2 linked regions of the Homo sapiens genome follow. The protein of the gene in region 2 purifies or fractionates together with the protein of the main gene of each other region. This does not show direct contact. Each region holds a gene or a part of one and is shown on either strand. Other genes may lie near its edges.

Region 1 (3,653 bases), on a different chromosome or scaffold from region 2:
TATGACCAGTTTAGTGATGAGGAAGCAGGCTCAGAGAGGTTAAGTAACTTGTCCAATGCTGGAACCATTAAGTATTAATAGAAGAACTGAGATTTATTTTATTTTTTTATTCTCTGCAAGTGCTGCACAAGAACTGGGATTCAGGGCTGGGCTCAGTGGCTCACATCTGTACTCCCAGTACTTTGGGAGATTGAGGCAGGCGGATCACTTGAGTCAGGAGTTTGAGACTAGTCTGGCCAACATGGTGAAACCCCGTCTCTACTGAAAATACAAAAATTAGCCAGGCATGGTGGTGGGCTTGTAATCCCAGCTACTCAGGAGGCTGATGCAGGAGAATCACTTGAACCTAGGAGGTGGAGGTTGCAGTGAGCTGAACCGAGATTGCGCCACTGCACTCCATCCAACCTGGGCGACAGAGTGAGACTCTGTCTCCAAAAAAAAAAAAAAAAAAGAACTGGGATTTAAATGTTGCCCTTATTCCAAATCCCACAACTCTTAATCATTACACTGTACTGCCTCTTACTCACGCAGCCTTCTCAAAAGTGAACACAGGGAGCAAGTAGAAATGTTTCCAAAATAGCTTTCTAAGACACAGAGTGACCCAGGTTGCCTCAGAGTTCAAAGGTCATATAGGAACCACTTGCCAGCTGCCTGCTCTGTAGTCCCAAGCACTGAAGTTTCTTATCTTCCCGGGCCAAGAGCAGCATTTTGGCCTCTGTTCCAACCTCCCGTTCACCTGCATGACAAATAAACTATGTTAATAACAGTGAGGCTGATCAGCTGGTAGTGCCCACACAGCACCAATACTGATGGTTGATTACTGATTTTGTTAGCGATTCACTTATTACAAAGAAAACATTTATTATGTTCTGTATCTCACTGTGGTATTATTTATACAACTGGATATATTTGTCAAAACTCACAGAACTATACAATTAAAAATACTGACTTTACTTTTACATTTTAAAAATGTTTTTTAATGGTATCCAGTAGCCAAGGAAAAGGGTGACTTTTACCATATGTAAAAGATACCTCAGTAAATCCAAATTTATTTTTAAAATGTGCCTGTGTGTGTGTGTACTTTTTTTTGAGACAGAGTCTAGTATGTTGTCCAGGCTGGAGTGCAGGGGCCATTCACAAGCACAAACATAGCACCCCACAGTCTTGAATCCCTGGGTGCAAGCAATCCTCCCACCTCAGCCTCCTGAGTAGCTGGGACTACAGGTGTGCACACCATGGCTGGCAATAAGCCCAACTTTTAAAATATTAAGTTGTTTGTACCATGATAAGACACCACACTAGGAGTTGGGATACAATACTGCAAAAAACAGTCTCTGACCTCAAAGATCTTACAGCCTAGAGAAAATGAAATTTATTCATTTACTCACCAAATATTTCTTTAGGGCCTACTATGTATCAGGCACTATTCTTTTTTTCTTTTTTTTTTTCTTTTTTTACCCTCATCTTCTATGTGATGACATCACACACTATTCTAACTGCTAAGGAAATAGTGATGAACAAACAGATAAGGTCCTCACTCTCAAGGATTCTAGTGAATAGGTAAATAAACAAGTAGGATACTTTCAGAAAGTGATGAGTTCTAAAATAAAATAAAATAGGAAAATAAGATCAGAAGTGAATAGATGGTGGAAGGCTAGATGGGGAGGGTAACTTTAAATGTAAACTTCAACTTTATTTATTTTTTAAAATATTTTTTATAGAGATGGGATCTCACTATATTGCCCAGGCTAGTCTTGAACTCCTGGGCTCGAGCAATTCGCCCACCTCAGCCTCCCAAAGTGCTGGGATTATGGGCGTGAGCTACCACGTCCAGCCTAAACTTTAACTTTAAAAAGCCTCTGTGGAAGTCACTTTTCAACTGAATGGCAAGACCTGAATGGTGAACAGAAACCAGTCATGTGAAGACCTGCAGGAGTATATTCCAGACCAAGGGAAAAAGAAGGCAAAGTCAGGCCAGGTGCGGTGGCTCACGCCTGTAATCCCAGAATTTTGGGAGCCCAAGGCAGGTAGATCACTTGAGGTGAAGAGTTTAAGACCAGCCTGGCCAACATGGCAAAACCCCATCTCTACTAAAAATACAAAAAATAGCCAGGCATGGTAGTGCACGCCTGTAATCCCAGTTACTCGGGAGGCTGAGGCGGGAGAATTGCTTGAACCTAGGAGGTGGAGGTTGCAGTGAGCCGAGAACGTGCCACTGCATTCAGCCTGGCAAAAGAGGGAAACTCCATCTCAATTTAAAAAAAAGAAGGCAAAGTCCAGGAGACTGGGAGAGTCTACTGTACTGAAAGAAGAAACTGAAGGCCTGTGGCTGAAATGTAGTGAACATGGCAGAGGGTGGTATGACATGAGACTGGAGAGAAGTGTAGGGGTCAGAAAGTATAAGAGCTTGTTGTAAACCATGCTAAGGGGTTAGGATTTCAACATATTTATAAAGGGAGGCCACTGGAGAGTTTTAAGCAGGAATGTGACATGACTTATGATTTTCTTAAATGACCACAAGATTGCTCTGAAAAGAATGGCTTATAGGAGAATAGTCTAGGCAGTAGTACAGGCAATAGATGATGATAGTTTGGACCAGATGTTGACAGGAGGAAGGGAGAGAGGGGGAGGGAGAGGGAGAAATAGAAAAATTAGAAACACTTTGAAGTTAGAGATGATAGACTTTGCTGATGTGGGACATGAGGAAAGAGAGGGTGGACTGTGAGTGAATCTCAGGCTTTGGGCTTGAGCAAATGGGTAGATAGCGGTGCCATCTTCTGAGATGGAAAAAAACAGTTTGGGGTGGGGAGGGATCAAACACTCCTTGTTAGACAAGGTAAGTTCAACTTATTTATTAGACATCGAAATAGAGTCTGAAACTCAGGTGAAAGGTCTATGCTTTACATGAACTTTGGAATGATAGCTATAGAACAGATGAGGTCACAAAGGAAGAAACTGTAGTTATAGCTGAGGGCCCAGAACTTAATAGTGGGGCCCTCTAGTATTTAAAGGTAGAAGAGAGGAGTTTCATAAAAGGAGACCTTTAAGAAGTAGCAGTCAATGAAATAGGAAGAAAACCAGTGTTATGTGGTATCACAGAAGCCATGAAAAAAAAAAGTTTTTTGAGGAGAGGGTTTACTATGTGAAATACCACTGAATTCAGAAAGACAAGCACAGAGAAACAAGGTGGATTAGGCAAGAAGAAGGTCACTGGTGGCTGGGGCCCATAGCTCACACCTGTAAGCCCAGCACTTTGGGAGGCTTAGGAGGGTGGATCACTTGAGGCCAGAAGTTCATGACCAGCCTGGCCAACATGGTGAAACCTCATCTGTACTACAAATACAAAAATTAGCCAGGCATGGTGGTGGGCACCCGTAATCCCAGCTACTCGGGAGGCTGAGGCACAAGAATCACTCGAACACTTGAACCTGGGAGGTGGAGGCTGCAGTGAGCCAAGAGATCGCACCACTGCACTCCAGCCTGGGCAACAGAGTGAGACTCCATCTCAAAAAAAAAAAAAAAAAAAGGAAGGTCACTGGTGACTTTAACAACAGCCATTTCAGTCAAGTACTTGGGCACAAACCATCCTAGAATGGGTTGAAGAGTAAATGGGAAATGAAAAATTACAGAAAACAAGAAAAAATATTCTCATT
Region 2 (3,653 bases):
TGCCATAATTTGTATGACCTTAGAAATTTTCTTAACTCCTCTAAGTTTCATCTACCTTATCTGGAAAATGAAAATGACAATGTATGTTCTTTGCAGGACTGTAAAACGATTGTCATAGGTAAAAGCACTTAGAAAACGACATATAACAAAAATATTAGCTGTGATACACAACAGCGTATTAATTTTCTTTTTTTCTTTTTCTATTTTCTAATTTTTATTTTTTTGAGATGGAGTCTTGCTGTGTCACCCAGGCTGGAGTGCAATGGCGCAATCTCGACTCACGGCCCAGGTTCAAGCGATTCTCCTGCCTCAACCTCCCGAGTAGCTGGGATTACAGGCGCCTGCCATCACACCTAGCTAATTTTTGTATTTTTAGTAGAGACCATGTTGGCCAGGCTGGTCTCGAACTCTTGACCTCAGGTAATCTACCCACCTTGGCCTCCCAAAGTGTTGGGATTACAGGCATGAGCCACCTCGCCTGGCCTCTTTTTAAATTTTTTTTTTGAGATGGGGTCTCACTCTGTCACCTAGGCTGCAGTGCAACTGAGTGATCAAGGCTCACTACAGCCTTCACCTCCTGGGCTCAAATGATTCTCCCACCTCAGCCTCCCGAGTGGCTGGGACTATAGGCATGCACCACCACAGCTGGCTAATTTTTTTTGTTGTTGTTGTTGACGAAGCTGGTCTTGAATTCCTGGGCTCAAACGATCCTCCCGCCTTGGCCTCCTGAAGTGCTGGGATTACAGGTGAGATAATTTTCAACATATGTGTCTCAAGAATTTTAATAATTGGGCTGCATATTATTTTGTGTGTAAAATTTGTTGTGCTGTTGATCCTCATGGATGTTCCATAAAAGTATCTTTCTTTCTTTCTTTTTTTTTTTTTTTACAGAGTCTCGCACTGTCGCCCAGGCTGGAGTGCAGTGGTGTGATCTCGGCTCACTGCAACCTTTACCTCCTGTGTTCATGCCATTCTCCTGCCTCAGCCTCCCGAGTAGCTGGGACTGCAGGCATGCACCACCACGCTTGGCTGATTTTTGTACTTTTAGTAGAGACAGGGTTTCACCATGTTGGCCAGGCTGGTCTCGAGCTCCTGACCTCAAGTGATCCACCTGCTTTGGCCTCCCAAAATGCTGGGATTACAGGCATGAGCCACCATACCTGGCCTCTTTTTTTTTTTTTTTTTTTGAGATAGAATTTCACTCTGTCACCCAGGCTGGAGTGTAGTGGCATGATCTCAGCTCACTGCAACCTCCACCTGCCAGGTTCAAGAGATTCTCCTTCCTCAGCTTCTCAAGTAGCTGGGACTACAGTTGTGCAGTACCATGCCTGGTTAATTTTTGTATTCTTGAGTAGAGATAGGATTTTGCCATGTTGCCCAGCCTGGTCTTGAACTCCTGAGCTCAGGCAACCCACCCACCTTAGCCTCCCAAAGTGCTGGATTACAGGCATGAACCATTGTATCTCTTAACATGCCAAAAGTATCTCTTAACATGAAATCTTATAACAAACTTTTATTTTCCTTTCTCAAAATTTCATAAATATTCACAACAACCCTGAGAAGCAGTTGTTATGCCATTTTTATAAATGAAGAAAATGAGGCCTAGAAAAGTGAAGTGAGTAAATGAAGTTCAAAAAGCAAAGTCAGGGCTGGATACAATGGTGTGGACCTGTAGACCCAGCCAATCAAGAGGATGAGGCAGGAGGATTGCTTGAGCCCGGGAGTTCGGGGCCAGCCTGGGTAACAGAGAGACACTCTCAATCTCTTAAAAAAAAAAAAAAAAAAAAAAAGAATAGAAAACCCAAGGACATGAATCCAGACCTTTCTGACTCTAGCCCGTGGTCTTTGTACCATGAAATCTAGTCAAAGAAGACATCATAGAGGGGAAACAGGAAACAATGTTTGGTTGAAATCGATTGGTAGAAACCTAAACCAATGAAAACCTAAACCAGTGAAAAGTCAAAAAAAAAAAAAAAAAGGTTTTCCGTAATAATTATTAGATTTTCAGACATGAGTACAAGGTCATGGTTAACAAGACTGCCACCCATAAAATAGTTTCTACAATGTAGTTAACCCACCAGCAAATGAACTTACATATTGAACCCCTGTCAAAGATTAAGATATCCCTGAACAGGGCCAAGTCATACCAACCTGTTTTCTGTAAAACCTGTTTTCCTTCAACATTGGATCCCAAGATTCCAACTGTGTCTACAGCTACACCAATCATAGTGGGGTCCTGACTTTCTATCATTTCAAAGACTTTTTCCACAAAGATAGGATAACGCTCACAGATCTGTTGAGGACTATCCATGACAGCCAGGTTTCCAAAAAACTTCACGAATCCTAAAGAGATTTACAAAAATATATTTTAATAGGGGAACAAGACAGCATGAATTGCGGGCTCTATGACTTCACAGGAACAGAAATGAACTGCAGGCCAGAAAAGCATAGAAAGGTTAGAGTAGTGTGTTGCCTGGAGATCAGAGAGACCATTAGGAGATTCTGAAGGACCTGTGATGTGTGATCCTGAGAGAGGGCGTCAATGGAGCTGGGACCAGCTATTGAAGTACTGGCATATGCAAGAGGGAGAACAAAGAAAAAGGACCAGTGGATACAAATTACAGGAAGGCAAGTTTAGACTCATTACCAGGAAGAAATTTTTAAATGGATATGTTCATTAATAAAATAAGCTAGGCTACCTAAGGCAGGCATACATCTCCAATTTCTGGAAGTGTTCAAGAAAGACTAATCAACCAAAACCCAGAATAGAATGGCAAGAGTAGATCCTACAACAGATAAAGACTCCCACTCAGAGATGTGATTAATCTGTGAAACATACTGTAAATGTCATTACTAGTATTTTTATTTATGTTTTTGTTGATATTCAAAAAGAAAAATATCCTAATGTTCTAAATAGCACTGATGTTTCCAGAAAACCAAAGTCAACAGTACGTAGCTCCAAGAGCAACAGATTCCACCTCAATAAGAGGCTATAGGTATCTTTTTAAAAAAATTAACTTTTAACTGACAAAAAATCATATATCTTTATTGTGAACAATGTATTCTGAAATATGTATATTTAAAAATTATTTTTTCTGCTTTCGTGAAAAATGTCATTAAATTTAAAAATTTTGGAGGGAATGCACTGAATCTATATAGTGCTTTGGGCAGCATGAACATTTTAATAATATTAATCCTTCCAATCCATGAACATAGGATACCTTTCCATTTATTTGTGTCTTCTTCAATTTCCTTCATCAGTTTTTATAGTTTTCAGTGTACAGATCTTTCACCTCCTTAAATTTATTCATAAATATTTAATTTTTTTTGAATGCTATTGTAAATGGGAATGTATCTTTGATTACTTTTTCAGAGTTCACTGTTAGTGTATAGAAATGCTACGGATTTTTATGCACTGATTTTGTATCCTGCAGCTTTATTGAATTTATTTATTCATTCTAACAGTTTTTTGGTGGAAACTTTATTCTATATATTAATAAAACATTACATCACTTGCAAACAGGGAAATTTTCACTTCTTTCTTTCCGATTTGGATGCCTTTTATTTATTTATCTTGCCTAATTGCTCTGGCTATAACTTCTTGTACTTTGCTGAATAGAAGTGGTAATTGTGGGCATCCTTGTCCTGATCTT

The links. The genes of interacting proteins can lie anywhere in the genome.
Region 1: the proteins of PSMD5 (region 2) and PAAF1 purify together in Homo sapiens (affinity purification with mass spectrometry; 2 studies listed by BioGRID and IntAct, with this or other methods). This does not show direct contact.

The regions. Positions count from the first base shown.
Region 1 is NC_000011.10:73,911,496-73,915,148, reverse strand, and holds part of PAAF1 (proteasomal ATPase-associated factor 1), read right to left. Parts: intron 737-3,653; coding exon 645-736; intron 1-644. UniProt on the Homo sapiens protein: Inhibits proteasome 26S assembly and proteolytic activity by impairing the association of the 19S regulatory complex with the 20S core.
Region 2 is NC_000009.12:120,822,343-120,825,995, forward strand, and holds part of PSMD5 (26S proteasome non-ATPase regulatory subunit 5), read right to left. Parts: intron 2,344-3,653; coding exon 2,152-2,343; intron 1-2,151. UniProt on the Homo sapiens protein: Acts as a chaperone during the assembly of the 26S proteasome, specifically of the base subcomplex of the PA700/19S regulatory complex (RC).